Linked DNA regions of Homo sapiens. The gene in region 1 interacts genetically with each later gene. Each region holds a gene or a part of one and is shown on either strand. Other genes may lie near its edges.

Evidence for each region.
Region 2: changes in PSMA3 (region 1) and PTTG1 impair growth when combined (synthetic growth defect), as found in Homo sapiens cells (one large-scale study listed by BioGRID).

What each region holds. Positions count from the first base shown.
Region 1 is NC_000014.9:58,258,026-58,261,859, reverse strand, and holds part of PSMA3 (proteasome subunit alpha type-3), read right to left. Parts: intron 913-3,834; coding exon 840-912; intron 1-839. UniProt on the Homo sapiens protein: Component of the 20S core proteasome complex involved in the proteolytic degradation of most intracellular proteins. This complex plays numerous essential roles within the cell by associating with different regulatory particles.
Region 2 is NC_000005.10:160,424,696-160,427,221, reverse strand, and holds part of PTTG1 (securin), read right to left. Parts: intron 1-2,526. UniProt on the Homo sapiens protein: Regulatory protein, which plays a central role in chromosome stability, in the p53/TP53 pathway, and DNA repair. Probably acts by blocking the action of key proteins.

The DNA.
Region 1 (3,834 bases):
AGGACTGCTTAAGGCCAGGAGTTTGAGACCAGCCCTGGGAACGTGGAAAGACCTTGTCTCTATAGACACCAAAAAAATACAAAAATTAGCTAGGCATGGTGGCATGAGCCTGTAGTCCCAGCTACTTGGGAGGCTTAGGTAGGAGGATCGCCTGAGCCCAGGAGTTGAGAGGCTGAAGTGAGCTATGATTGTGTCACTGCACTCCAGCCTGGGCAAGAATGAGGAAAAAAGACATTAAATACAGTTTTAAGACAGTGTTTATAGTAATAAAGGAAAATCACATATTCAAAATACTATATGCACTATACAGTTTCTATAAATAACATACTGAAAAAAAATCTTTCCTCTGCCTCGTATCAGTTATTAATGATAAGAAAACATGGCTGGGCCTGGTGGCTCACACCTGTAATACTCGCACTTTGGGAGACCCAGGTGGGTAGATCTCTTGAGGACTGGAATTCAAGACCAGTCTGGCCAACATGGCAAAGGCCTGTTTCTACTAAAAATAAAAAAAATTAGCCAGGTGGTGCACACCTGTAATCCCAGCTACCCGGGAGGCTGAGGCAGAAGAACTGTTTGAACCTGGGAGGCAGAGGTTGCAGTGAGCTGTGATCACACCACTGTGCTCCAGCCTGGGCCACAGTGAGACCCTGTTCCCCCAAAAAGGAAAAAAAAAAAAATTCTGTTGGACAAGAGGTTGTTGTAAAAAAAAAAAAAAGAAAAATTACTTTCCTTGAATGAGTTTTTTTTTAATTTCATATAATCTTATAATGAGACTTAAATGCTAATGAAATACCATTAAACTAAAATAGAATTTCAAATGATTCAAAATTACTCACGTATGAAACACCTGATGGGTCAATCATGTAGAGTTGCGCACCGTCATTCACACTGTAAGACCCTAACATGAAACTGCATGAAAGTATACAAACAGCTTAAACCATGGCAATAACATAAAAGTATTTGTGAAAAAATTATTTTAAAATGCAGTTATATTTTCTTTCTGAGATAAATTACTAATACACATATAACTCAGTAAGTACTTTGAAACAGTGGTTTCAATTAATTAAAACTATTACATGAGATTATTCAAAATTCATGTAGCTTTTGTTTGTTTAGTATTAATCTTTCTGATGAAGGTCTCCTGGAAAGTCTAGCAGTACAGGGAAAGGAGTAACGATAGATGAAAACCACAACTATGAGAGGGCCCAATAAATAAGGCATAAACACAAAAAGATCAAGGGAACAAAATTCCTGACGGAGAGTATACTGAATCCATGTGAAATTCTTTCCACCCTTCATTCTATTTCCCAATATCCTGCCAATCATTTCTCTGCAATAATCAGAATTGGTTCAGTGTATTTTTCTGTGCTCAACAAATTAGGCTATTAGCTGATTGTATGAAATACTGATTTTCTGAAATTGTGACATACAGTGGGCACTGTTTCCATGAGTTCTGCATCTGTGGATTCAACAAACCACAGATAGAAAACTTTCAAAAAACATTGCTTCTGTACTGAACAACTGTGATTTTCTTGTCATTATTCCCTAAACAATACAGTGTAACAGCTATTTACACTGTGTTAGGTATTGCAAGTAATCTAGAGATGACAACATACAGGAGGATATGCACAGGTTATATGCAAATACTTAACCATTTTATATCAGGGACTTCAGCAACCTTGGATTTTGGTATTCATGGGAGGTCCTAAAACCAATCCCCCACAAATACCAAGGGACAACTATATTTGCCTTAGAGTAGAAAAGAAATCAGCAGCATCTTACACATCATCTTATATGCGGAATATTTTAACTATTCAATTCCCATCCCTACCGTCATTTCCTTCCATTTTCTACCGATATGAGACTTATCCTTCAGGATATATAGCTCATTGTCACTATTTTAAAGCCTTTCAACATTTCTTTGAAGAAAATCAGCATGGAGCACAGACTTTTATATGACTGGACCCCTTCCTACATCAGTATCATCTCTAAACCTCATACTCTACACACCAAGCATACTTAACTCTCTCTGGCGCACGTATTTTCATACCAGTTCCTGTGCTTGCAACTACCAAGTCTCCCTACATCTCACACTCTTCCTTGCCTCCTGTCCAGAAAGAGTCCGTTCCCTAATTGTTGTCCCTTTATCATATCACTAATATTTTATCAATGTGACTTCACACCTGTGTCTCCACATTTATGACTAACTCAGTGCCCAATAGATGTTTACTAAAAAAGTTCTCTCTGGCCCAGTGCGGTGGCTCACGCCTGTAATCCCAGCACTTTGGGAGGCTGAGGTGGATCACTTGAGGTCAGGAGTTTGAGACCAGCCTGGCCAACATGGCGAAACCCTGACTGTACTAAAAATAAAAAAATTAGCCGGGCGTGGTGGCAGGTGCTTGTAATCCCTGCTACTCAGGAGGTTGAGGCAGGAGAATAGCTTGAACCCGGGAGGCAGAGGTTGCAGTGACCTGAGATCGTGCCACTGCATTCCAGCCTGGGCGACAGAGCGAGACTCCATCTCAAAACAAAACAAAACAAACAAAAAAAAAGTTATGAAAAAAAGTTATCTCTACTATTCTTACTCCCTTAAAAAGAGTAGAGAAGTTAACTGATGAACTCAGAGCTCAGTTGAAAGGTATTTTACATGGTCTGAAAACAAAGTGTTTCATAATGTAATTTAACTGAGAAGCTTAAGAATGACTAATGTCAGCCTGGGCAGCATGGTGAGACCCCGTCTCTACAAAAAAAAATTTTGTTAATTAGCCAGGCATGGTGGCCCATGCCTGTGGTCCCAGCTACTTGGGAGGCTGAGGTAGGAGCATCGCTTGAGCCAGGTCAAAGCTGCAGTCAGCCATGATGGCACCACTGCACTCCAGCTCAGGTGACAGTAACTGTCTCAAAAAGTAAAAACAAAACCCTAATGTAATATTACCAATAGAATAAAACTCAAGTTTTCTTTAATATCTTAGTAATTAAATATGACTGATGATAAACAACTCAAAGGTAGGACTACAGCTGAGCACTCAGATGTTAGTATATGTATTATTTTGACCAAACATGTTTGACTGTTTTAAGTCATAAGCCAAACATGTCTTTTCATTTTAGAAAAATCTAGTCACAAGTCTTCTCTGTGAAGCCAAATTTGAATATTTATACCTATTCCAGGTCTTTATGCAGCTGAATCTCCACTTTACCCCACAATAAAATATCAGCACTTCAACAGAAAGAGAAACCGTGCCTAATGGGAATTGTGAGACGTAATTTTTAAAATTACCTAAGAATATCAGGGACTAACACCGAGAGCTTATTATAATCAGATTAAAGTCATTGTTATCAGTTCCTTGTTTTATAATCACTTCAGATCTATATAGTCCTTTTCACTATTGAAACCTTTTTTTTTTTTTTTTTTTTTTTTTTAAAGAGGCAGAGTCTCTATTGCGCCAGCTAGAGTACAGTGGTATGGCCACAGCTCATTCCAGCCTTCAACTCCTGGGCTCAAATGATCCTCTCAAGCAGCTCCTAAGTAGCTGTGACTACAGGCATGTGATACTGCACCTGGCTAAATTTTAAATTTTTTTTGTAGAGATAGGTTCTCACTGCGTTGGCCAGGCTGGTCTCATACTCCTGGGCGCGAGGGATCCTCCCACCTCAACCTCCCAAAGTACTGGGATTACAGGCTTGAGCCATGGCACCCAGCCTCAAGTAGTTTCTATGTACACTGTTTTATTTAATCATTGCCCTAATACTTATCGACGAGTTTCTATTTTTAAGTATGTAAAAGGCTAAGATGCTGGGGAACATAATAAATATCTATAGTACAGATCTGCC
Region 2 (2,526 bases), on another chromosome or scaffold:
CTTGAATTAACAACTGCAAGAAATCCCATGGTCACTCAGACCTGGGTGCTTGTCACACTTTTTCTTAAAGGAATGAAAGAAGTCTATCACCTCAAGGAAAACTGACAGCCTTTGTTGCCAATGGCAGAATATAAAACGTTAAAATTTTGTCAAAAATTAAAAAATGAATATTTTTTTTTTGAGACAGAGTCTCACTCTTTCACCTAGGCTGCAGTGCAGTGGCACAATCTCCGTTCACTGCAACCTCTGCCTCCTGGGTTCAAGCGATTCTCCTGCCTCAGTCTCCCAAGCAGCTGGGATTACAGGTGCGCCCACCACACCCGGATAATTTTTGTATTTTTAGTACAGACGGGGTTTCACCATGTTGGCCAGGCTGGTCTTGAACTCGTGACCTCAGGTGATCCGCCCGCCTTGCCTCCCAAAGTGCTGGGATTACAGGCGTGAGCCACTGCATCTGGCCAAAAAAAGGAATTTTGGAAAACTTATCTGCAGTCATTAGCTTGACAGGTGCTTAGACTTTTCTGATGAGATCAGTTGTGGTATTAATGTGCTTTTGATATTGTATAATAAAGCATCTCAACATGTGGGTATCTACATATCTCAGTGAACCAGTATTTCTGAATGGTCAATGCAAGATAGATGCAAGAATATAAGATACATTCCAAGTGCAAAATAGACCAATGGATTTTACTGTCAAGATACAAAATGCTCATTGATACGGTTTCAGATTCCACATTGCAATTTTATATTCAGAAACAGCCACTTGTGGGTTTTAGTGTAGTGGCAAAAAAACCTATCCACACTTATCTGAAAAGACTATTAAAAACGTATCTGTGTGAAGCCAGGTTTTCTTCGTATATTTTAACAGATGTAAGAGTGAATATAGAATTTGATAAGAATCCAGTTGTCTTGTATTAAGCCAAATAAAGCAAATTTTCAAAAATATAAACCATGCCATTCTTCTCCAAACTTTTCCAGAACAAAAAATATTTTATGTTAAAAAAAAATTTACATTAATGTAATGTGATTACTTAGTGAATAAATATCTTAAGTTTCTCAGTCTTAATTTCTAATACAGAAAAGAGCAGATCACACAAGCAAAAGTGGTCTTCAATAATTTCTAAGAGTGTAAAAGGGTCTTTAAAACAAAACAAAAAAAAATGGAGAACCATTGTGTTAGGTAACATTCATTCTTAAAATCCAAGTACCTTACTTCTTAGCAATTATTTTTAAAAAGTGATTTTTCTGTACAGTAACAAAAGTAGGATTTAACACTGAATTTTCTTCAAGGAGCTGTTTTCTCAAAAGATTAGAAAATCATGGTTTTCCTTATCTTTGTCCGTAGGTGTGAAAGTTCTCTAAAGCCTAAGTACTCAAGAATTAGTCTGCTCTTTTACAAGCCTGGTAAAACCCAGAAGTCAAAAAGGAATTGAATGATATGTGACTATTTAACTTAAAACCACTGAATTGTAAAGGAAACCATAGACAGAAGACTCCAGAGGAAAGAAGTTTGCAATATAAGGGGAGCTAATTTTATCTACAAAGAGCTCTTTAATCAAAGAAAAACACAAACCGGAAGTTAATAAAAAAAGAAAAACTGTAAGTGGCCAATAATCAAATATGTTCACCATACACACAACAAATTTAAAACAATGAAATATTTCTTTTCTGATAAAGATTAGAGTTTTAAAACATTGATAGTGAACCTGGAGGAAGCAGACATCTTCATCCACTGTAGACGGATTTAACAATTTACACTATTTTGAAGGGCCACTTAGCAATATCTCTTTCCTGTAACACAGGATATTGTGGTCTTCATTCTTCATCAATATGCATAAATCTACCTCATTTTCCTCAATGGCTGAATGGTAATTATTAGCACGGATGCACCACATTTTATAATTTTAAAACTTAATCACACAAGCCCTTGAACTCAGCAATCCTTCTCAAAGTTTCCCTCCAGATGTACTCACAAACTTACAACAAGATCATTTCAAGAATACTAATCATAGAAATGTTTGTAGTTTCTAAAAGCCAGAACAATCTGAATGCAAATTAGTAAAATAACTACATGACCTCTTTGGCTAAATAAAAGGGTAAAAGATCCAGCTCAGAAATCCGTAAGGCCCTCCCTGATCTGATCCCACACCTCACCTGTATCCTCCTTTACCCTGCCTGTATTTTTCCTAGAACCACTTTAGTCTCTTTTCCTACCTCACGATCTTTGCACCACTTTGACCTACAATGCTGTTTTTTCTGGCTCACTCACAGTGAGATGACTTGTCCAGCATCTGACTTTCCCTTCAAATTATGGGCTCCCATAGGCAGGGCCCATCTTGTTAAACAGTGTGTCCAGGACCTAAGGATGCCTGACACACAGTAGCTTCTCCTGAAATGGTTGAGTAAATTAAAGCTTGAAAAGCTGTTTCCAAAACAGAAAATACTTCAGATACATGTAGCAGGTTGAAGAAATTTGAAAAACATGTCTTCACTGTCTTATGTAGATTTTTCAAACCAAAGAAATAA